3 separate regions of the Homo sapiens genome follow, and regions 1 and 3 are each linked to region 2. Evidence: fine-mapped expression QTL. A gene starts in region 2. Each other region holds a variant in brackets. All regions are shown on one strand. Distances are from middle to middle.

Region 1 (8,186 bases), 120 kb before region 2:
TTTGCACTTATTTTATTACTAGCAAGAGTAAACAATTTTCCACATATTTATTTGTTATATAACCACTTTTATTAATTATCTGTTCAAGTCTTCTGGCTACATATATGTATATATATGACATACGTATATGTATATATCAGCTTTTCATATAATGAACACATTTAATGATTTGTCATATCTGCTGAAAATATTTTGCCATTTTTTGAATATCTTATTTTGTTTATGTAGGTAACTTTTAATGCCTGTGTACTCTATCTTTTCCTTCTTGATTTACTCAATCATTTAGAAGTTTGTAAGTTACAAAAATGAAAATACAAGCCACAGACCGAAAGAAAATATTTGTAGAACACTTATCTGATGGGCCAGGTGCTGTGGCTCATGCCCATAATCCTAGCACTTTGTGTTTGTTTTTTTGTTTTGTTTTGTTTTTTCTAAATGAACATTGAGTTTATTTATTTATTGACATTTTTCCCTTTCCAACTTTTATTTTAGGTTTAGGGGATACATGTGCAGGTTTGTTGCATGGGTAAATTGTGTGTTGCAGGGGTTTGGTATATAAATAATCTTGTCACCCATTTAATCAGCATAGTACCCAATAGGTAGTTTTTCAGTCCTCACCCTCCTCTCACTCTCCACCCTCAAGTAGGCTCTGGTGTCTATTGTTCCCTTCTTTGTGTCCACATGTACTCAGTGTTTGGCTTCCACTTGTAAGTAAGGACATGCAGTATTTGGTTTTCTGTTCCTGCATTAATTCTCTCAGGATAATGGCCTCTAGCTCCAGCCATGTTGTCGCAAAAGACATGATTTTGTTCTTTTTTATGGCTGTGTAGTATTCCACAGTGTATATGTACCACATTTTCTTTTTCAAGTCCACTGTTGATGGGCATCTAGATTGATTGCGGCACTATTCACAATAGCAAAGACTTGGAACCAACCCAAATGTCCAACAATGATAGACTGGATTAAGAAAATGTGGCACATATACACCATGGAATACTATGCAGCCATAAAAAATGATGAGTTCATGTCCTTTGTAGGGACATGGATGAAGCTGGAAACCATCATTCTCAGCAAAGTATCGCAAGGTCAAAAAACCAAACACCACATGTTCTCACTCATAGGTGGGAATTGAACAATGAGAACACATGGACACAGGAAGGGGAACATCACACACCCGGGACTGTTGTGTGGTGGGGGTATGGGGGAGGCATAGCATTAGGAGATATACCTAATGCTAAATGACGAGTTAATGGGTGCAGCACAGTATACATATGTAACAAACCTGCACATTGTGCACATGTACCCTAAAACTTAAAGTATAATAATAATAAAATAAAATAAAATAAAAAACTACCATTCAATCCAGCAATCCCGTTACTGGGTACATACCCAAAGGAATAAAAATCATTCTATCATAAAGACACATGCACATGTATGTTCATCTCAGCACTATTCACAATAGCAAAGACATGGAATCCTAGCACTTTGAGAAGCTGAGGCAGCATGATCGCTCAAGCCCAGGAATTCAAGACTAGCCTGGGCAACATAGTGAGACTATAGTCCCAGCTACTCAGGAGGCTGAGACGAGAGGATCCCTTAAGTCCAGGAGGTCAAGGCTGCACTCCAGACTGGTTGACAGAGTGAGACCCTGTCTGGAAAACAGCCGGCCGCATTGGCTCACGCCTCTAATCCCAGCACTTTGGGAGGTCCACGCGGGCAAATCACCTGAGGTCAGGAGTTTGAGACCAGCCTGGACAACATGGTGAAATCCCATCTCTACTACAAATACAAGTTAGCCAGTCATGGTGGCACATACCTGTAATCCCAGCTACTCAGGAGGCTGAGGCATGAGAATCGCTGGAACCTAGGAGGCGGAGGTTGCAGTGAGCCGAGATCACGCCACTGCACTCCAGCCTGGGCAACAGAGCGAGACTCTGTTTAAAAAAAAAAAAAAAAAAAAAAAAATTCCACTTATCTGATAAAGGATTGGTATCCAAAATATATGAACTCTAAAAACTTAATTTAAAAAAATTTAAAAAGGGCAAAAGATCTGAAAACTTTACAAAGAAGATATAAAGATGATAGATATGCAGATGAAAAGATGCTCAGCACCATGCATAATTAGGAGACTGCAAATCAAGGCAATGATGAGAGAGAAAACAACAAGAACGAGATACCACTACATACCTATTAGAACGACTGAAATCCAAAACACAAACATTTACACCAAGTGCTGGAGAGGATGGGAAACGGCAGGAACTCTTCCTCACTGCTGGAGGAAAAGGCAATTTCAGTTTACAAAGCTAAGCACAGGCTGACCATATGATTCAGGAATTGTGCTCTGTACTAGTCTGTTCTCACACTGCTATAAAGAAATACCTGAAACTGGGTAGTTTATAAAGAAAAGAGGTTTAATTGTCTCATGGTTCTGCAGGCTGTACAGGTTTCTGCTTCTGGGAGGCCTCGGGCAACTTAGAATCATGGAGGAAGGCAAAGGGGAAGCTGGCACATGTTACATGGCTGGAGCAGAAGGAAGACAGTGAAGGAAGAGGTGCTACACATTTTTAAACAATGAGATCTCATGAGAACTCACTCATTTTCATGAGAACAGCAAGGGGGAACTCTACCCCCATGAGCCAATCACCATCCACCAAGCCCCTCCTCCAACACTGGGGATTACAATTCGACATGAGATTTGGGTGGGAACACAAATCCATACCATATCATGCTCCTTGGTATTTACTCAAATTAATTGAAAACTTACATCCTCACAAAAACCTGCACGTGAATGTTTACAGCAGCTTTATTCATAATTGCTAAAATTTAGAAGTACCCAAGATGTTTTTGGATTTGTTTATCCAGGTAAATGGATAAACTATGGTACAGCCATACAATGGAATATTATTGAGCAATAAGAAGAAATGAGCTATCAAACCATAACATGACAGGAAAGAGCCTTAAATGCTATTTCTAAGTAAAAGAACCCAATCTGAAAAGGCTACATACTCTAATCTTTCTGGAAAATAATTTAGTACTGTATATCAAGAGTCTTAAAAATGTTCATAATTTCTAACCCAGCAATTCCTCTTCTAAGGAAAAAATCCAGAAGAAAAAGTTTAGGTACTAAGATGTTTATTACAGCATATTTATAATACTATACATAGGTATTACACTTAAGTATCCAACAATTGAGCAAAAGTTACATAATGGTATATTTATTTAATTAAATATCATGCAGCCATGAAAAGAAAATACGATTTTGAAGCATTAATTGGGAAATGTTATAAAACAAGGTTAGGCAAAGAAAAGCAGGTAACTGTGTTGTATATATTGTATAATTTCTATTTTTTAAAAAATAGAAAAACACTAGATGGAAGGATGCCAGAATGTTAATAATGGTTGCCTCTGGATGGCAGGAACTAGGATTATAATTGACTTAGCCTCTACTTAAAAAACTAGGATTATAATTGACTTAGCCTCCACTTAAAAAAAAAAAAAAACATTTGCTGTACTTTCTTATTTATTTATTTAAAGATGGGGTCTCACTCTGTCACCCTAGCTATGCAGCAGGTTCAACCTCCTGGGTTCAAGGGATCCTCCTGCCTCAGTCTGCCAAGTAGCTGGGAGTACAGGTACATGCCACCACACCTGACTAATTTATTTTTCTGTAGAGACAGGGATCTCACTATGTTGCCCAGGCTGGTCTTGAACTCCTAGGCTCAAGTAATCCTCCCACCTCAGCCTCCCAAAGTGCTGAGATAACAGACATGACCCACTGTGCCTGGCCCCTTCTGAACTTTCTAAATTATTTTCAATTATTACATTTTTTAAATTGTTTATAGCTAGTAAAAATAATAAATTAAGTTACTCAATACGACCTTCTCTGCTCTGTCATCAGTTTGTTTGTTTGTTTGTTTTTGAGACAGAGTCTCACTCACTCTGTCACTCAAGTTGGAGTGCAGTGACACAATCTTGGCTCACTGCAACCTCCACCTCCTGAGCCATTCTTCTGCCTCAGCCTCCCAAGTAGCTGGAAATACAAGCATGCACCACCACACCCAGCTAATTTTTGTATTTTTAGTAAAGATGGGATTTCACCATGTTGGCCAGGCTGGTCTCAAACTCCTAACTTCAAGTAATCTGCTCACCTCGGCCTCCCAAAGTGCTGGAATTGTAGGCGTGAGCCACTGCGCCCAGCCCTGTCATCAGTTTTGTACCTCAAAGAAGTACCTGGACCTGCTGGGATGTAAGCTTAACTCTGCAAACCTTTTTACTATATCCTACTTAGAGGCACTTACAAGGCATTCTAAGTCTGCACCGCTGGCTACCACACAGGAATAATAATACACCTGGATGCCAACATGCAGAAGCACAAGACATCTTGTATGGTGGAAAGCAACAACTCCAGAAGAGGGAAAGTTCCAGTCTGAAGTGGGGGAAGGTGAGTACAGAAATAATTGATGAGAGATGGACAGAAAGAAGGAGAGAAGTGCAGCTCTCTGGGACATGACTTGGCTTTCTGAATTCAGAACTATACCTGAAAATGAAGAAGACCTGGGCCCACTGTCAGACTCTAGTGCTTCTCCATGAAGGGGCTTCACTTTAGCCCTACAGGAAGGCAGTTGTTCCCTTTAGATAACAACCAGGACTCCAGAGTTTGAACCCCTGTAGCAGGAGTTAAGTGGCTGGGAGCAGAAGATGAGATAGACTATGAAGACAAGCTGAGTCTTTAGGGCAGAACTTCTCAAATCTTAGTGAACTTTAGAATTACCAGGGAGATTGTTTAAATTGGTGATACTGGCACCAGAAATGCTAGGGTAGGACAAGAAATATCGCATATTTTTAAACCAACCAAACAAGCAGCAATAAAGGAATA[C/T]TGCATTTTTATCAAGAAACTCTCTGCTGTCAAGTCTTCCTGATGCATTTAAATTGCAACGGCTTTAAAATTCAAGAGACTCTCAAATTGTAGGCAAAATACTATGTGTGTGCATTTCTCTGGAGCAGGTCCGTAACAATCATCAGATTCTCAAGGAGTTCCATAATTCAAGAAGGCTAAGATCTTAATGAGCACAAAAAGTAAGAACTAAAGAGGCTTCACTCAAGCATCAAGTCAGAGGGGCAAAGGCAAGGTTAAGAAACATGCGTCCCGCCCACCAGGACATTGTAGACTGAAAGCCAGAGGGATAGAGACACATAAAGATGTACCTAAATGATTTTCACCAAGTCTGGAATGTTTTTTATTTTTAGACAAGATCTAAATGTTATTTTTATTTTTAGACAAGGTCTCACTTTGTCACCCAGGCTGGAGTGCAGTGGCATGATCATAGCTCACTGCAGCCTCAACCTTCCATGTTCAAATGATCCTTCTCCCTCAGCCTCCTGAGTAGCTGGGACTACAGGCACGTGATCCCACACCCGGCTAATTTTTGGGTTTTTTGTAGAGATGGGGCCTCACTGTGTTGCCCAGGCTGGTCTCAAACTCCTGGGCTCAAGCGATCCTCCCACCTCAGCTTCCCAAAGTGTTAGGATTACAGGCACCTAGCAGAGTCTGGAATGTTAATAGTTCATTTTTATTAGCTGTTAGCAGCTTGATGCATGAGTATGTGTCCGTGTGTTTTAAAGGCGCAGGGCTCAGTGAGACATTACATTTGAGGGAGATTACTAGGAGGGAAAGTCAGTGGATTTGCCTAGTCAGACAGACTCTAAGATTTCACAGAAAAGGGAAGAAGAGATGGCTAGTTGTTGGGGTCTTACACTCTGGAGTTTAAGCTGCTATAAGAAGGTAGAGTACGGTCAAGTAGATGTGGTGGTGCATACTGAAAGCAGCTATAGTTGAAACGGAGCAACAATAATAGAAGTGGTCACTGTAAACCCAAACAGCTGGCATCACTCCCTACCTCACCAAATTATCAGTTATGGTGCACAGGAGGACAGACTGGAGACTCTGATCAAAGAAGATGCTGAGACAGTTGTAAGGGAGACATAGTTCTCCGTGTGCTCTGTCAAGAGCCAGATAGAAGAGAAAGGAGCAGGGTTCCAGCCTATTCCCCAGTGGGTGCTAAGAAGGACTGGCTTTCTTGTTACAAGGAGTAAGCATATTTCCACACCCTCTTTGTTGTCTTCCCTAGGAGTATGGCCTGGGAAATAATAATTACAAATATTGTCTTAAAAGGTTTACCTCCTGGGACCAAATCTTCACTGGCTAAATTCCTCTCAAAACAAATGCTTTATTCATTTGCCTCCCAGCTATATTAAAATAGCCTCCCAGCTGATTTCCCTACCTCCAATCTTCTGCACTATGGCTCAAGTGACGGTCTTTAAAATATTCAACTGTTCTCTCAATGGCTACAGAGAAATTTTTTGAAGCCTCAGAATCCCGTTTTTAAACAAAATATTACCTGGAAGCCCAATTTAATAAAAGTTAGAAGCAAAGCTGTTCTTGTTAAAATATCCTAGTATCCCCTCTGTTCAGCTCCTGTCCCCCATCCTTGCTCCAGAGGCTCCACCTCAGAACGCTAGGTCTCCAGGGTGGTGTGAAACTCATTTGCCTGCATGAAAAGAACTTTATAGCCCAAGCACCACCCCTGAGACCCTAACTCCCTTCATAGTCCCATATCCTGCTGCCCTGTATGTCCCTGTGCCTCAGCCACATGGAGCTACTAGATCCCAAATATACCATTTTTAAAAAACTTATTACAGGGAATTCTAATTTTAAATTTTAAATAATATACAGAAAAATCAAACAAAATACTATAATGAAACTTGGTGTACCCATACCCCAGCTTGAATTACCCATAGCCAATTGTGTCACTTATAGCCTCATCTACTCTTCTCCCATACTACTTAGAAGCAAATTTCCTCATCATAACATTTTATCCATTAAAATTTCAGTACATTGCTCGAATTTACAATGAATTAATCATAACCCATGATACCACTGTCATATCTAAAAATAATAATCCCTGAGTAACATCAAATATCCAGTATTCGAATTTCCAATTGTCTCATAAAATGTCCTCTTTATGTTAGAATCCAAATAAGACGCATGCATTGAGACTGATATTTTTTAATCTATAGGTCTGTCTCCACTTTTTTTCTTCTTGCAATTAATTTATTAAAGAAATTGGGTCATTTGTAATTCCTCCCATGTTGCTAGTTACATCCTTATGGTATAGTTAAACATTGCCCCCATCTTCTGTGTTTCCTATAAAATAGTATTTGGATCTACAAGTTTGATCAGACTCAGGCTTGATATTTTTTTAAACTACTTCATAGGTGATACAGATCTCTTTTTGTGATGTTAGCAGCTGTTGATGCTCAATGCCTAAGATCCCTTTATTAGGGATTGCAAAATGATAATATTATATTTCAATCACACCTTCAATTATGAGATGAAATGTTTCTATAAAGAGAAACTTCCTCTTGCCTATGTGGACACCTAATGAACAGCATTCTTTTTATACCTCTGTACTTTTGCACATTATTCTATCTGACTTGAATGACTTCACACCTTCTCCAACTGATGGAATCCTAATTATCCTTTCAAACGAACCAAAATGTCACCTCAGTGAAGCCTTGCCCTCCTTCCTGGCAGAAGTCAACCATCTTCTAAATGTTAAAAAGAAATCATTATAGTAATGCTTACCTCATTAATGAATTTACTGCCTTCATCCCTGGGATCAGAGCTCCTCAAAGACAGGAATAGCCTTAGGCCCTAGCATCTGTATGAAGTAGTTTCCCATCACTAGTGGCATCATAACGGTTGTAGTATCATAACACAATGCATTACTCATGTATTTGTGGTGATACTGGTGTAAACAAACCTACGGCACTGTCAGCCATATAAAAGTATAGCACATACAATTATGTACAGTACATAATACTTGATAATAATGAATGATTATGTTATTGGTTTATGTATTTACTATATTTTATTATTTTGAGTATATTCCTCCTACTTATTAAAAAAAGTTAACTATGCCAGGCAGGGTGGCTCACGCTTGAAATGCCAGCATTTTGGGAGGCCAAGGCAGGAGGATTGCTTGAGCCCAGGAGTTCAAGACCAGCCTGAGCCTGGGCAACATGGTGAGACCCCGTCTCTCCAAAAAAAATACAAAACTTAGCCTGGCATGGTGGCATGCACCTGTAGTCCAGCTACTTAGGAGGCTGAGATGAGAGGATCGCCT
Region 2 (8,186 bases):
AAGAGGTTATAAAAGGTTTATGGAAATTTTATCTTGTCTAGTCAAAGCTGATCAAGATTAGACAGATTTGTTTGTAAAGTTTATTAAAATCAGCTTTAGTATTAAAAGCACATTAATACATATATATTATATATAAAATATATTTTTTTAATTTTATTTATTTATTTATTTTGAGACAGAACTTTGCTCTTGTTGCCCAGGCTGGAGTGCAATGGCACGATCCTGGCTCACTGCAACCTCTGCCTCTCAGGTTCAAGTGATTCTCCTGCCTTAGCCTCCAGAGTAGCTGGGATTACAGGCACCCACCACCACACCCAGCTAATTTTTTGTATTTTTAGTAGAGACGGGGTTACACCATGTTGGCCAGGCTGGTCTCGAACTCCTGAGCTCAGGAAATCCACCCGCCTCAGCCTCCCAAAGTGCTGGGATTACAGATGTGAGCCACCATGCCTGGCCAAGTGTCTTATTTTCAAGGAGGATCATGGAAAGCATGGGAAGAATGCTGACAAATAAAGGTTTCTGATAACTTTGAAACTGTATCACCGGACTGGGTAAAAATTTCCAAAGTCTAATGAAAATAAAACTGGACTCATAAAATTGCTAACCTCCAGACTAATGTTTTCCATTTTTCACCCACTCTTCTGACTTAGAATCACTAAAAATTAAAACGGCCTTTTTTAGCTTGGCGCAGTGGCTCACACCTGTAAATCCCAGCTCCTTAGGAAGCCAAGTCAGGAGGATCCCTTGAGCTCAGGAGTTCAAGACCAGCCTGGGCAACATCAAGAGACCCCACCTTGAAAAAAAATTTTTAAAAATTAGCCAGGTGTGTAGTGCATGCCTTTGGTTCCAGCTACCTGGAAAGCTGAGGTGGCAGGATGGCTTTGCCCAGGAGGTTAAGACTACAGTGAGCCATGATCACATCACTGCACTCCAGCTTGGATGACAGAGCAAGACCTTGTCTCAAAAAAAAATCCAAAAAACTAAAAACCCTGCCTTTTTCCTAAGGCCTTACCAGCTAAAGCTAGTCAACGTGACTTTGAAAAAAAAATCACCACAAAAGCTTATATTTGGACAAACTTTACACACAACCTACAATCTAGGAAAATAGATTGCTATTAATCTTCCCAATTGACTGCCCTCCAGACTCTAAAGAAACTAGTTTATAGACTATACCAGATATTAAGCTTTGTTTGTCTTGTTCCATAGAAATGTCTCTCTTATTAAATACCTGTTTGCCTACATCATATACAGAGGCCTAGCTTTGAGAACTCATCTACAATGCCATCTTCTGAAATGAGACACAACAATTTAATTGAACTGGACTATCCCCCAAAATGAGAGGCTGGTTTAATGGGATCCTTTGCCGCTCAATTACTAGCCCGATTTCTCTCTCCACAGACACCAACTCAGCTTATAGTGAAACTTCTAAGGAAGTTTCAGACAAAGGAAATAAAGAAGACCAGGGACTCACACCCCAAAATATGGCATCCTGTATGCTAATCATTTTAAATTAAAGGTCCCTGGAAACCAGCAGATACTGGAAGCAGCTTTACTCTGATAACTACCTTATCTGCCTAAAGTCCAGACCTGTCAAAGAAGACAACAATTACTTCTGGTCTCTTCCCTGAGTTTTCATTAACTTACTTCAGTACAAGAAGAAAGATGGAAGCCTGTCAACACACCTGGACAGATTTTTGTCAGAAACCATTGTCTGCTCTGCAGGCCCAACAGTCATTGTCCCAGGCCACTGTATGTTCTCCAGGCCACTGAATCACCCTAAAAATCATTTACGATCCACCTTAAAATCACCCACATTTTCCCATCTCCCATATTCCTATGAAAGAGGGTATATAAGCATCTGTACCCCACTGGGTCATTCTCCTGCAATTCCCTCATGCTATGCACGTTAAAATAAAATTTCTATGCCTTTCTCCTATTAATGTGCCCTTTGTCGGTTGATTTTTCAACAAACCCTCAGAGAGCAAAGGGGAAGCTTTTCCTTGGCCCCTACATGCTATATGGCAGAAGGGAAAGTGCTTTAAGTTTATGTTCCGAGCAGTCCCTCCACCCATACCAAGGAAGCACAGCAAGGAGCTTGGGACACTTCCCAAAGAAATCCCAAAGATTTCTTTACAACGTATTTTTTACAATTCCTTTACAGTAGCCCCCAAATTTTATCCACTTTCGCATCTTCAGGATCAAGCAGAGTGCCTAGAGTGTACACTCTAGAAATGTTTATTGAATTAAGAAGCGGCTGACAGTGTTGTGCAGGTAGTGTGGCCAGAAGAGTAGTTTCAAGTCCCAGGCACTCATTAGTTGTATGACCTGGGGCAAGTCACCTAAATATACCGAGATCCATTTCTTCACCAATGAAACAGGAATATTACTACTTGCCTTGTCTACCTTACTGGCTCCTCAGGAGGCTTTACATAATGAGCGGCACTGTAAAACGTTATACACGTGTATGTACAGTTTTGATAGGGCTGTTAATTAGTCTCAATGGTGAAACAGAAAGAAACCTGGACTCAACAGTCAAAAGCTGTTGGGCCGTTGTGCATGGGCTACGACTAACATGTTCCGTTTTCCCATCTTAAACACAAAGTTTAGACTCGATGATGGTTCGGACCCTGCACTTAATAGTCTCTAAGTCCGCTACAGGCTCGGAACCTCAGGTGTCCTCAGAGAGGTAAACCCCAGGGTTCCCAGATACACCTGCAAGGGCAGGGACAGTCAAGGTCGCGGGGTACTAACACGCGGGAGGCTCACCCAGTCAAAGTCACACGGGTTACCGTCTTCGCGTTGGGTGGGCAGACCGTGGCAGAGCGGCGGCAGTTTCCTCACGAGTAGGAAGGCAGCAGAGAGCAGGGCCGACAGAAGGTAGTAAGGTTGGGCGAGCCATCGTGAAAGTCGCGGCACCGAATACACGAGAGCAATTAGAGGTGCCAAGACCGCCATCTTTTCGGCCGTAACGGCCACTGCTCGCCGGCGTCGTAGGTCTCGCCCCGCCTCCCCCACCATAACGACTGCTATTGGGCTATATCGCAAACGTACGGCCTCTAAACCCGGATGTAGTTCTCTGAACGCTGTGGTAGGTCAGAACCCAAAAAAGAACTTAATATTTTATTGGTTAGTCTAGTTGTCGCTTTATCCGCCTAAGTCATTTTATTGGACTGTAGCAAGCAGAGCTAGCAGAAGACTCTAATAAGGTTAAATAGCACTTCCTGAACGTTCTCATAAGGCGACGGAAGTAGTTGTTGAAAAAAGGTAGGCGGTGCCTGAGGCATCCAATGACAAGCGGCTCCTTGAGAAAGGGCGGGGGGGTACTCCTTGAAAGCATTGTCCAATGAAAATTACCAACGGCAGACACGGAGACAGCGCCGGGGCGGAGGGTACGATGGAGAATTTCACGGCACTGTTTGGGGCTCAGGCTGACCCACCACCGCCCCCAACCGCACTCGGCTTCGGACCAGGAAAGCCTCCACCCCCGCCACCGCCTCCTGCGGGCGGGGGACCCGGCACGGCCCCGCCTCCCACCGCGGCCACGGCTCCTCCTGGCGCGGACAAGTCAGGAGCTGGCTGTGGCCCTTTTTACCTCATGAGGGAACTGCCAGGTGAGTACTCGGCCTTGCCAAAGCCAGCCAATCAAATCTTAGAGAGGAGGTGATGGGCGTGGCTCTCAGCCGGCTAGCGGAGGTGCGAGGTAACCTAGGCAACGCATACCCGGACTGTGGAGCCCTAAGTCGGAAGCGCTGTTAGGATTCACAAGCAGAGGGATGACTTGAATTCAACCAGGATGAGTTGAATTCAACCAAAGGGATGAATGGCGGGCAGGGGCGTAGTGCATCTCCGTTACTGTCTTTTGCACCATGTCCAGGCTGTGTCCCTGACACTGGTTTATGTCTCTCTAAAAAATGACCTAGGGCTGGGCGCGGTGGCTCACGCCTGTAATCCCAACACTCTGGGAGGCGGAGGCGGGCGAATCACCTAAGGTCAGGAGTTCGAGACCGGCCTGGCCAACATGATGAAACCCTGTCTCCACAAAAAACACAAAAATTACCTGGGCGTGGTGGCGTATACCTTTAATTCCAGCTACTCGGGAGGCTGAGGCGGGAGAATCGTTTGAACCCCGGGAGGCGGAGGTTGCAGAGAGCCGACATTGCTCCACTGCACTCCAGCCTGGGCGAACGAGACTCCGTCTCAAAACAAACAAAATCCAGGGTTTGAGTTTGGAACTCGAGAGGCCTGATTTAATATCTTTGGGGACCCAAAGTTTTAGTTACAGGTCTCCCACAGACTTGCTATTGGTTTGGGGCAAGTTGCCATTCTTCCTTCTAAGGTTCCGGCATTTCCTGGTCTGATCAAAAAAGGGATAAGAATCGAACCAAACTCTTCATTCAAAAAATTATTTTGTTGAGTACCTATGTACCAAGCACTTTTCTAAATGCTGGAGACAGTTGTGAACAAGACTGACAAGATGCTTGCCTTTTTTGGGATGTACATTTCAGTGGAGGAGGCATTGTAAACAAGATAATGTCAGAAAGTGGTTAATGCTAGGAAAAGAAAACATGATAAAAATTGAAGGTGGCCAGGCGCGTTGCTCACGCCTGTAATCCCAGCGCTTTGGGAGGCCGAGGCAGAATCCCTTGAGCCCAGGAGTTTGAGACCAGCATGGGCAACATGGCGAGACCCAGTCTCTACAAAATATACAAGATTAACCGGGCGTGGTAATGCATGCCTGTAGCCCCAGCTACTCAGGAGGCTAAGGGAGGAGAATCGCTTGAACACAGGAGGTCGAGGCTGCAGTGAACCAAGATTGTGCCACTGCACTCCAGCCTGGGCAACAGATGAGACCCTGTCTCTTAAAAAAAAAAAATTGAGGGGCAGAACTACTTTAGCTAGAGTGGCCAGAGATGCTCTCTTCACATAGCTAACATTTGAACTAAAATGTAAGCATAGACAAAGGGCCAGCCATGTATGGACAGGAGGGAGAGACAATTGTAGATACAAGAAATGAGGTCAGAAACCCTGATGTGAGAAAAAGCTTAGAATATCTGAGGGACAGAAAATCAGTTGGACTCCAGTGAAGTGAACAAAAGGAAAGAGTGTTAGGGAGAGAGATGAAGCTGGGAGAGTTAGGCAGAGGCTTTTATAAAGCAGTAAAGGCATTTAGATTGTAAATACAAAAGGAAGCCATTTAAAAAATTTTTTTATAGACACAAGGTCTCACTGTGTCACCCAGGCTGGACTGCAGTGGTATAATCATAGCTCACTGTAACCTCCAGTTCCTAGGCTCATGCTGTCGTCCCACCTCAGCCTTCCAAGTAGCTAGGACTACAGGCATGCACCACCACAGTTGGCTAACTTAAAATTTTTTTGTAGAGACTGGGTCTTACTGTGTTGCGCAAGCTGGTCTTGAACTCCTGGCCAACAGCAGTCCTCCCGCCTTGGCCTCCCAAAGTGCTAGGATTATAGGTCTGAGCCACTGTGCCCAGCCAAGGAAAGCCATTTTAACATAGGAAGTTGGTCAAATGCACTTGTTTATAATCATTTAAGCAGCCACATGACAAATAGAAAGTGGGGAAATTAGTCAGAAGTTACTGCTCAGTAGTCCAGGAAAGATAATGGTTTGAACCAGAGCATAGCAGGGCATAGAGAAGTAAATGGATACAGGATGTTAGAGGTAGAGCTGACAGGGTTGAAAAATTGAATACAGGGCCAGGCGCTGTGGCTCACGCCAGTAATCCCAGCACTTTGGGAGGCTGAGGTGGGAGGATTGCTTGAGCCCAAAAGTTTGAGACCAGCCTGGGCAACATAATGAGACCCCATCTCTACAAAAAATAAAAATAAATTAGCTAGGGATAGCAGCATGCACCTGTAGTCTCAGCTACCTAGGAAGATGAGGTGGTAGAAATCACTTGAGCCCAGGAAGTTGAGGCTGCAGTGAGCCATGATTGTGCCACTGCACTCCAGCTTGGATGATAGAGGAAGACCCTGTCTCAATTAAAAATATATATTGTATATAGAAGTGAAGGAAATAGAGGAATTGATGCCTTTTTAAGTTTTCGGCTTGAATAATTGGGTGTATGGGTACGGAGACTTGGAAGATGAGGAAGGAACAAGTTTGAAGAGGTGGAAATCAAGAGTTATTTTGGACATGTTTGGTCTCCAAGATGCCTCTTTTTTTTTTTTTTTTAAACAGAGTTTTGCTCTTGTTGCCCAGGCTGGAGTGCAATGGCACAATCTCAGCTCACCACAACCTCCGCCTCCCAGGTTCAAGCGATTCTCCTGCCTCAGCCTCCCGAGTAGTTCGGATTACAGGCATGTGCCACCACACCCAGCTAATTTTTTATTTTTAGTGGAGACAGGGTTTCTCCCTGTTGGTCAGGCAGATCTCAAACTCCCAACCTCAGGTGATCCGCCCACCTTGGCCTCCCAGAGTGCCAGGATTACAGGCGTGAGCCACTGCGCCCAGCCTCCCAGATGCCTTTCATTGTCTCAAGTCTTATTTCCACATCATGACTTGAGGGAAATAGCAACAAATATTGGTATAGTACTTTGAAGTTCACAACACACTTACATGCAGTATTTAATATAAGTAGTATTTAATACTTAGAATAGCCCTTTGAGGTAGCATTACTGTCTACATTTTATAATTGAAAAAACTGAAACATGGAGAAGTTGACATCCCTTTGATTAGTTAGTGGTTGATGTCCACCAGCGGTTTCTTTTAATCTTTCTTTTGCCTTCCCTATTCTGATTGTAGCTATTTGTATCAGTCAGTTGACAGATATTGAATATATGTTCTGGGCAAATGCTGGGTGTATGAGGCGGGTGAGATGGAGAGAGAGATTAGTAATGCTGGTCATTGCTTTTCAAGGAGTTTAGTTAGGAATGTAAAATTTGTGGTTTAAGGATAGTGACTATATTTCCTGTCACCTCCATCTCATTTTGTGCTCATGCCTCACAACAGCAATTAACAATATCTTAGCCATCAATATTAAGAACTACCTAATGGTTTTCAAAGTGTGTTGCTATCCAGAATGACAGTGAGAATAAGATGTCACTTGAGCTAGACCTTGAATAATCCATATTGGTGAAGAAAAATTAGGAAGAATTTTCCTAAGATGAAATAATGTGAGGGGTGTTTTTTTGAGGCGATAAGGAGATCCATTTGGATGGATCAGAAATTTTGCATAGGAGAGTAGTGGTTGATGAGGCCCCAAAGCTAAGTTGGAGTAAGATGTAATTAGCCTTGAGTGCCAGTCAAAGGAATTTGAGCTTTCTCCTGAGGGCAAAAAGAAACCATTAAGATTTGTGAACTGAGGAGTACTGATTTCCAAAAATATCTGGAACATGTGGGTGCCATGGATTGAAATAGAGAAGCCCTGAGTGATGTTGGCAAGATTTGGAATTTCAAAACAATTTTTTTTTTTTTTATCTTGTTGGGCAGGGTGGTTCACGCCTGTAATCCTAGCACTTTGGGAGGCTGAGGCAGGCAGATAGCTTGAGTCCAGGAGTTCAAGACCAGCCTGGGCAACATAGGGAGACCCCTGTCTCTACAAAAAATACAAAAATTAGCCTAGCATGGCAGTGTATGCATGTAGTCCCAGCTACCTGGGAGGCTGAGGCAGGAAAGTAGTTTGAGCCCAGGATGCAGAGATTGCAGTGAGCTAAGATTGTGCCATTACACTCCAGCCTGGGTGACAGAGCGAGACTGTCTCAAAAAATAAATAAATATAAAAAGTAATCTTTGTAGAATAGTCAAAACTGGAATTTGAACTCTCAAGTTACAGTTTAGAAAAAGCACAGACTGCCTTCTCACCTGAGCCTTAAGGATAACCATCTGGACAGAGGAGAGTTGGCAGAGCAGGGGAAATTCAGAAGATTGTAATGGCAAGAGGCAGTGCCCAGAGTTATGAGGAGAGATACTGTGACATTGGGTCTCCTGCCATTACCCTCGCTCAGTCTTCTGAGTTGTTTGGTAGTAAAGGGAAGGAAAAGGATGAATAAGGCCTAGAGGTATAGAGGGAAAGTGCCTTGTTTATTTAATAAATATTTATTAAGCACCTAATGTGTGTACTGTGCTGGGCACTAGCGATACATGAATGAACAAGACATTGTCTGTGCCTCCAAGGAGCTTACAGTTCAGTACCTCAGTTTTCCCAAGTGAATGATTATAAACAAGC
Region 3 (8,186 bases), 430 kb before region 2:
GTTAAGCATAGATTTACCATATGATCCAACAATTCCACTTTTAAGTAGTATACACTATGCAAAAGAATAGAAAACAGGGACTTGAACACATCTTTGTTCACCCACATTTATAGCAACAGCATTCACAATAGCCAAAATGTAGAAACAACCCAAGTGTCCACCAACAGATTAACAGATAAACAAAATATGGCATATCCATGCAATAGATTATTATTGATTTATAAAAAGCAGTGGAGTTCTGATATGTGCTACAAAATGCATGAACCTTGAGAACATTGTGTTAAATGAAAGAAGCCAGACACAGAAACACAAATATTATATGATTCCACTTTTATGAAGTACTTAGAAGAAGCAAATCCATAGAAACAGAACTAGAATGGTGATTGCCAGTGGCAGGGGGGCAGAGAGAAATGGGGAGTTAATGGGTACAGAGTTTCAGTTTGGGATGATGAAAAAAGTTCTGGAGAAGGATAGTGGTGATGGTTGCAAGACAATATGAATATATTTAATGCCACCAAACTGTGTACTTACATGGTTAAAATGGTAAATTTTTTTAACCACTTAAGTTTCCATGTTATGTGTATTTTATTGCCAAAGAAGCCTTTAAACAATCAAGAGGAAATTTTTTAAGTTAGTTAAGTGCCAACTATGTGCCAAGTCCTAAGTGACACACCAGGAATACAGTGAGGAGCAAAGTCCCTACCCACACAGAGTTCCCAGCATATAGTAGCTCCTCAATAAAGAGCTAATTTATTGAATTAATGAATGAAATATTTTAGGCTCTGTCTATATATAAAACAACAGATGTCAACAGGCTATTTTTACAATGCTTTTTTCAGGGGTTTTAATACCCAAAGAAGCATATTTAGTAAGGGTAGAATTAGAAAGAGTTTAGATATTCATTCTATTACAAGATCAAAAGCACTTTTTTGCTGCTCTTGCTGTCATTTTTTATTTTTGTGTTTCACTATTATGTTTTAAATAAGAACAAAGATGTTGAGAAAAAGAAAAAGACACAATGTTCTTTTCAACTATTTTCAGAAAACCTCACGATTTTTGAAGAAGAGATGAGTGGAAATAGCTGAGAGTTTCTTTCCCAACAGGACCAAAAGGACGAATTGTATAATGTCCATGAAGCATCTTGATCTCCACAAGCAACTTCGCAGATCCGCTACAGGGAAGCCGACAGCCCACTTTCTTTTCAACTTCTATCGGCTTTCCCCAATTTCTCTGGTGATTTATCCTCTCCACATTCTCTATCTAAGTAAGATTCAGGAGAAAATTTAGTTTGAGGTTTGAATTCAGCATCAGGCAAAATGAGATTCAAAAACTAGAGCTGCCTTACCTTTTTTGAATTCCATCACCAGGAAAAACCTTCAAACCAAACATGCTTCATTTCTTTTTTGCCCTTTAGCCCCATAGCCACCAAAAAGGCATGGGAGAACCATGGGGATGGTGGCATTGGGGCTTGGGCAGCTCTGTTCTTGTGGTCATTTGCACATGGCTTTGATGGCATTTTCTCTTCCCTGTAGCTTAGACAAATAGAATTGGAGCAAGGAGGAAAAAAAGAAATCTGGTAAGTATTTCTATCCATCTTGTATTGATCTTCATGACAAAAGAAAAATTGTGTGTGGTTGTTTTTGCTCTTATCTGAAGCACTGTGGCTCCCTCAGACAAAATGCATTCCCATATACAAAAAGTAAATATATATATATATACACACTTCTGCCAAAGGCCCTAGATTACGTGTTGTATGGTTTACACTCCATCATTCTACACTAGACCCATGCCCTCATGCTGATAATCTAGTTAATTTAGATTTACACCTACACTCAATCAACTTAATATATGTGAAAAATACAAATCCATAATTAAAGTTTTGGTGTCGCTCTAAGTGATCAAGAACATAGTACTTTGGCCTCTTGGTGAATTGATTTTAATGGGTCAGTTGAGACTTTGAGGATCTGCTTTCTTCATCTTTCCAATATCATTGTTGGTAAATTGAGGCCAAAATATTATAGCTAAAAATGTATAATTCCAAAGCCTAGTTCTTAAAAGAAATACACTCAGAAGTGAGAAGGAAAAAAAGAAAACAATGCCAGAATTCCTGACTGAATTCTATTTCTAAGAGAATATGTGTAGAATCTATTTTAAGAATGAGACTTTTTTATTTTAAGAATGAAATCTTTAAATGAGATAAGTGAAAACTCAGCACAGAATCTGACACACATTAGGTAATTTATGAATGTTTTTATTCATTTATTAATATATGTAAATAGCAATACAACATACACCATTCCCCAGTGTTTTTTTACGTTAATCAGAAGATAATTGCCTAAAACACACTAAAACTTCATTTTATTTTTATCCACTTGGTGCATACATAAGGCAATTGTATAAACATAAAATACTGGGGATGTATCAAAGATCACTCATTTATAGGCAAAATTGGTTGCCACTCACAAAGTAGAAACTGGGAGGGGTATGAGGTTTTTCCTGCCACTATAAAAATAGCAAACCCCCACTGTCTAGCATTTTACTCATTTCTTTGTTTTTACATTTGAAGACTTTTCCTGCCTTTAAGCACAGAAGCAGCCCAGTAAGGGGTGGTTTCTTAAGCTCATAAACACAGTCTGGCACAGGGTAGGAGGTTAATGAAAACATGCTGATCCCTTAAGAAGGAGTAGTTGATGATCATTTTGATGAAGGGACAGATAGTGTATACCTGTGTCTACCTGAGAAAGGTCACACTTTATGGAAGGAAGAGTGGACCAATGAAAAGGTGGGCATCACCAAAAACATATTTCCCTAATTTTGCCACTTTGCCAAGAATCAGTCCTAAACCACCATCAAAGCCATGCACCTGCTAGCTTTCTCTAACATAACATGTGTCCTAGAATGAAGCATACAGTATTGCATGGAAATCAAATGCCATGCACTGGGATGCACCAACTGTTGTTTCATAGACAAAGTGGTTCTATTTCCCTCCAACTCCACCACCACCAGCGTCCTTTCCACTCATCACACTGCAGCCAAAGGAATCTTTTAAAAATTCGTATCTGATCATTTCGCACTCTACTTTTGAAATAAAGTCCACAAGTCCCCAAGCAAATCTGCAAGGCTCTGTGACAGTTTCTATGGAATTCGCCAGTTGCATCTCACACTAAGCCCTGCTCCCTCATGCTACAGCCAATCCCAGTTCCTCAAGGCATCCCATTTCACAGACCTTTGCATTTGCAATTCTTTCTGTCTAGAAGAGTCTTCACAACCCATGACTATGGCATACTTATTCCTGAAGCCTCTGCTTAAACGTTAATTTCTCTCAGAAGCCTTTTCTGACCACACCAAATTAGGCTGGAACCCTATTATATAGCATAATAACACCCTGTGCTGCTTCTTTTGTTTCACTTTGCAAAATTGTAAAAATTAATAATTAATTAATTAACTGTGCAATGGTTGATTATCTATATCCCAAGTTCTAATCTCCATGCTGAAGGAACCATATCTATCTTATTTATTACTCTAAACTTAATATTTGATACATAGTAGATATAATACATACTTAAAATATTCTAAACTTAATATTTGATACATAGTAGATAGCATATATTTGCTGAATTGATGAATAAAATTGTGAGGTCTCCATGGAGATATTTCCCAGGTAATATTTCTAGCAGATGAGGAAGTCATTAAAAAGTGGCAGTCAGATTCATTGTTATCTGTCTTCTGACAATAGAGTAAATGTCCTAAAGGAGATAAAAGTAGATAATGGTTTTCATTACTGAAGAATAGGAAATAACTTGAGTTAATTGAGGCAGATGGTCCATGAACAATGCTTCAGAAATAAAATAGAGCTTCTGACCTTTGGTGATCGAGAAATATTACAAAGTTATATATGGGACTCACTTCAGCCCTACATCAAGATCAAATTGTTTCCAATAATTAATGCAAATCATTACATCCTTCTTTTTTCCACAGTGTCTGAGACCTCTATGCCATCTTGGGAAGCAGGCTAACACACCTCCTTTCCCTTCTTTATTTTTTCTTCTTCTGTTTAGTTGCTTTTATTTTCTATGACAAATCCTAAATTGGGTATGACTGAATGTTAAGAAAAGTTTTCTTTCATCAAAGCTGATATCCACACTATGATCCACAACCAAAAATGTGACTGCCCCTTACTATATAAACAATGAGTTACTGTTTTGTAATCATGCTAGGCACAAAAATGAGCTTAATAGAAAAAAATCCGAATAGCTGAGAAAATGCTCCACAATACGCAGGACAGATAAGAAAAAAAATCTATATTTTGTAGCATGTTATTATTTACAAAGCCTTTTGGGATTCCCTCTCCCTTGATCCTGGCTTAAGATCTCTTGACCTTTACCCATAGCAAAGCAGAAATTTTTACTGATGAGAAAACTAAAGTGGATCATTTCTGGCTCTACATCATAAAGCCAATAAAGAAAGTACTGGAACCCAAATCCAACTTTTTCTGCCTCAATATGTCTTTGTAATTATGAGATCTGGCTCATGTGTTAAGAGGACGAGACAAAAGCCCAGAGCAGGATTTGCAGAAACTTCTGGCTTGATGGGGCTCAAGAGTTACTCTGCTTGGGAAACCCTTATCCTGTTGAAAACTTTCTTCAGAGCCTCTTTCATGTCTTTGTTTCTCAGGCTGTAGATCATTGGATTTAGCATGGGGATGACCACAGTGTAAAATATTGACACGATC[T/C]TGTCTTCCTCAAGGGATTCGCCCATGTTGCCTTTCAGGTATATGAATATGAGTGTTCCAAAGAAGAGAGTCAATGCAGTCATGTGAGAAGCACAGGTGGAGAAGGTCTTGGCTTTCCACCTGCTGTACGAATCTTCAGAACAGACTGAATGATGAACAAGTACGATGTAAGAATCACTGAAATGCTGGTTGTGATGACCAGAAAAGCTGAGAGGTAGATTACCCATTCCCGTGGCCTGGTTTCACTACAGGCAAGCTTCAGCAGGGGTGGGAGGTCACAGAAAAAGAAGTCTACATGGTTGGACTTAGAGAAGGAGATAGAGAAGGTGCAGCCAGTGCAGATCACAGAATTGACTATGGCACCAGAATATGCCCCGGCCAGCAGCGCCAGGCGGGTCTTTGGTGTCATGACTATGGCATAGAGGAGGGGGTTACACACAGCCACGTACCGGTCATAAGCCATCACAGCCAAAAGGAAACACTCAATGCTAGCACAGAGTGTGAAAAAGAAGAATTGGCTGGCACAGCGCTCATAGGTGATGATCATCTTATCAGTCCCAAAGTCTCAAGCAACTGAGGACCAATAACAGAAGAGTAGCAAATGTCCAGGAAGGAAAGATGACTGAGGAAGAAGTACATGGGAGTCTGGAGCCGAGGGTCAGTCTGAATTAAATTAGCACAATCATGCCCAGGTTGCCCCCCATGGTGATGAGAAAAATGACCAGAAACACAAAGAAGAGACCTATCTGCAGCTCTGCCTTCAACCGGAACCCCCTCAGAAAAAATTCTGTCACCGTGGTGCCACTCTCTGCCATGAAGCCAACGTTATCCACTGAAATTAAAAAATAATAATAATAAAGTCTCATTAAAGATAAATTTTTATGGCTGCATAGTATTCCATGGAGTATATGTGCCACATTTTCTTAATCCATGATAAGTTCATGTCCTTTGTAGGGACATGGATGAATCTGGAGACCATCATTCTCAGCAAACTATCGCAAGGACAAAAAACCAAACACTGCATTTTCTCACTCATAGGTGGGAATTGAACAATGAGAACACATGGACACAGGAAGGGGAACATCACACACCGGGGACTGTTGTGGGGTGGGGGGAGGGGGGAGGGATAGCATTAGGAGATATACCTAATGTTAAATGACGAGTTAATGGTTGCAGCACACCAACATGGCACATGTATACATATGTAACAAACCTGTACATTGTGCACATGTACCCTAAAACTTAAAGTATAATAATAATAAAATAAAATAAAAGATAAATTAAGGCAGTAATGGCTTGACTTGATCACTGCTCACTAATTATAATAATCTTTTAGATTTGTAAAGCACTTTACATTTTCACAAACTTTATTTTACTTGATCCTTCAGAAATCCTTCGAAGCACATATTGTTTTTATTTTTATTTTATTTTATTTGTTAAGTTCTGGGGTACATGTGCAGGATGTGCCAGCTTGTTACATAGGTAAATGTGTGTCATGGTGGTTTGCTGCACCTATCAACCCATCACCTAGGTATTAAGCCCAGCAAGCATTAGCTTTTTTTCCTAATGCCACCCCCCCGCCTACAGCCCTTCCCCAACAGGCCCCAGTATGTGTTGTTTCCCTCCCTGTGTCCATGTGTTTTCATTGTTCATCTCCCACTTATAAGTAAGGACATGCAGTGTTTGGTTTTCTGTTCCTGCATGAAACACATATTGTTAATCCTATTTTTGACAGAAGAATATGAGGGCAAAAGAAGTAAAGTGACCCAGATTTCACAATTGGTAAATAGGCAAAGCCTAGGTTAGACATCATTTCCTTAGGCACTTCCAAAACTTCTGACAGGTCCCAAATTAGAAAACTTAATCAGCCTCCTGTGGAGGAAAAAAGCACTTTGTTGAAGAAATCCTAGTGGTGTAGTATAAAAGACATGGGCTTTGAAATAAGGTGTAGGTTTGAATACCTTCAGACCTTGAGCAATTTAATTAACCTTTCTGAATTTCAGCCTCCTTCTTGGTTAAATGAGGATTACAATGCCAAAGTTATAATATTATTGTAAAGGACATAATTTACACAGTATGTTGCACATGGTCTGACACACACTTAGAATTATTTTTACTAAATTCTGAGATAATATGAGTGACATGCTCTTAGGTTCATATACATTGTGGAATCTTAAGTCCACAGCCACCTGGAGTTCCAACATCAACTCCACCTTTCTTTAGGGTTGTTTCTGATGTGCATATATGCACAATGGATTTGTATGCCAGACAGTGAGCCATAAAGAACAAACACTGTTAGGACCTCTATAGCCTGTTGCCTGCCAAGTCGCCTCTTCCTCTCTGTTCCTGCCAAGCAACATGGCCTGGTTTCCAAGTTCTCCTCTTATTCCAAAGGATCTGTCCTAGTTTTTTTAATGCCACTTCATTATCAATCAGTGAGATACATGAATCAAGCTATTCCACAATTAGCCTGCAAAACTCATTAACAGACAAAGCCAGCACACTGAGTTTTGAATTCTAATACAGATGGGGTTCTCGCCAGGTATTGGGAAAATACTATCTCTGTGCCTTTGAATCTTGATAATTTAGAGTAATGAACATAGTGAATGTGGACTTCAGAGGTGATTCTTCTTGTCCTCTTTCCATCCTTGAAACAAAAACTGAATTTGAAAAAGATCTCATAGGACTTTAGATAAAGAATAAAGTAAAACCTTGATCAATGTTTGGCAAAAGCTGATCTAATTTTTGAATAATGTTCAGCAACTGGGGGGAGTTTTTTCCCCCACTGAATTCTTGATAGGGTAAATATTTAGGTTGTTTTTCTATACTTAAGGCCAAATCTTACCCTGATCTTCTCCCAGAACAATGATTCGCCATGTTCTTAAAAGGAGTTCCTGTAAATCATCCTGGCCAAAGGGAAAAAGAGGCTATATTCATCTATTTATTTAATAAGAATCTACTGAGAACTTACTATGTAGCAGGCACTTTTCTAGTTGCTTGGAACAAAACAAAGGGTCCTGCCTTCATGCTCATTCTCGTGGAGCCTGGCATATATATGTTCAAAAAAGAAGAAATATATTCTTCTACCATGATGGAAGTTGGTAAGTGCTGTGAAAAAAATGCTGCAGAGTATGAGGAATTAAAAGTATCAAAGTAAGGATAAGGATATTAAGACCATCAAAAAGACTCACTGAAAAGGTGACATTTCAGCAGAAATTCTGGGAATCAGGTAACTGTACATATGTACTTGCATACATCATTTGGCCACAACTAATAGAAAATAAAGACATAAATTGCCAGCAATGGACCACCCTTCTCTGATTACAAAACATATGGAGGTTTTCAGGTCTTTGGGAGACATGTTCCAGGCAACATTGTTCAGAAGTGTTAGCCTTCTGATAACAGAGAGAAGTCCTTAAGATACTAGAGGCTCAATAATCAACCTAAGATCACC

The links. PIP is the estimated chance that this variant, and not a neighbour inherited with it, causes the effect.
Region 1: its variant is fine-mapped to the expression of MED19 in whole blood (TOPMed, PIP above 0.99).
Region 3: its variant is fine-mapped to the expression of MED19 in whole blood (TOPMed, PIP 0.93).

What each region holds. Positions count from the first base shown.
Region 1 is chr11:57,831,529-57,839,714 of GRCh38, reverse strand. No RefSeq gene overlaps it. Among named protein-coding and RNA genes, the nearest start is that of CTNND1, 74 kb to the right of the region's middle. The variant C/T (reference allele first, on the strand shown) is at 4,877.
Region 2 is chr11:57,707,388-57,715,573 of GRCh38, reverse strand. It overlaps MED19 (mediator complex subunit 19), which reads left to right and starts at 3,359. Exons shown (of 5, transcript NM_001317078.4): 1 at 3,359-3,611. The coding sequence starts at 3,395. It overlaps TMX2 (thioredoxin related transmembrane protein 2), which reads right to left and starts at 2,981. Exons shown (of 8, transcript NM_015959.4): 1 at 2,767-2,981. The coding sequence starts at 2,955. TMX2-CTNND1 (TMX2-CTNND1 readthrough (NMD candidate)) reads right to left here and starts at 3,051. Exons shown (of 21, transcript NR_037646.1): 1 at 2,767-3,051. RefSeq lists an enhancer at 1-21 and a silencer at 3,389-3,728.
Region 3 is chr11:58,141,841-58,150,026 of GRCh38, reverse strand. All of the region lies in intron 2 of OR9Q1 (olfactory receptor family 9 subfamily Q member 1), which reads right to left. It also overlaps the pseudogene OR9I2P. Among named protein-coding and RNA genes, the nearest start is that of OR9I1, 20 kb to the right of the region's middle. The variant T/C (reference allele first, on the strand shown) is at 4,733.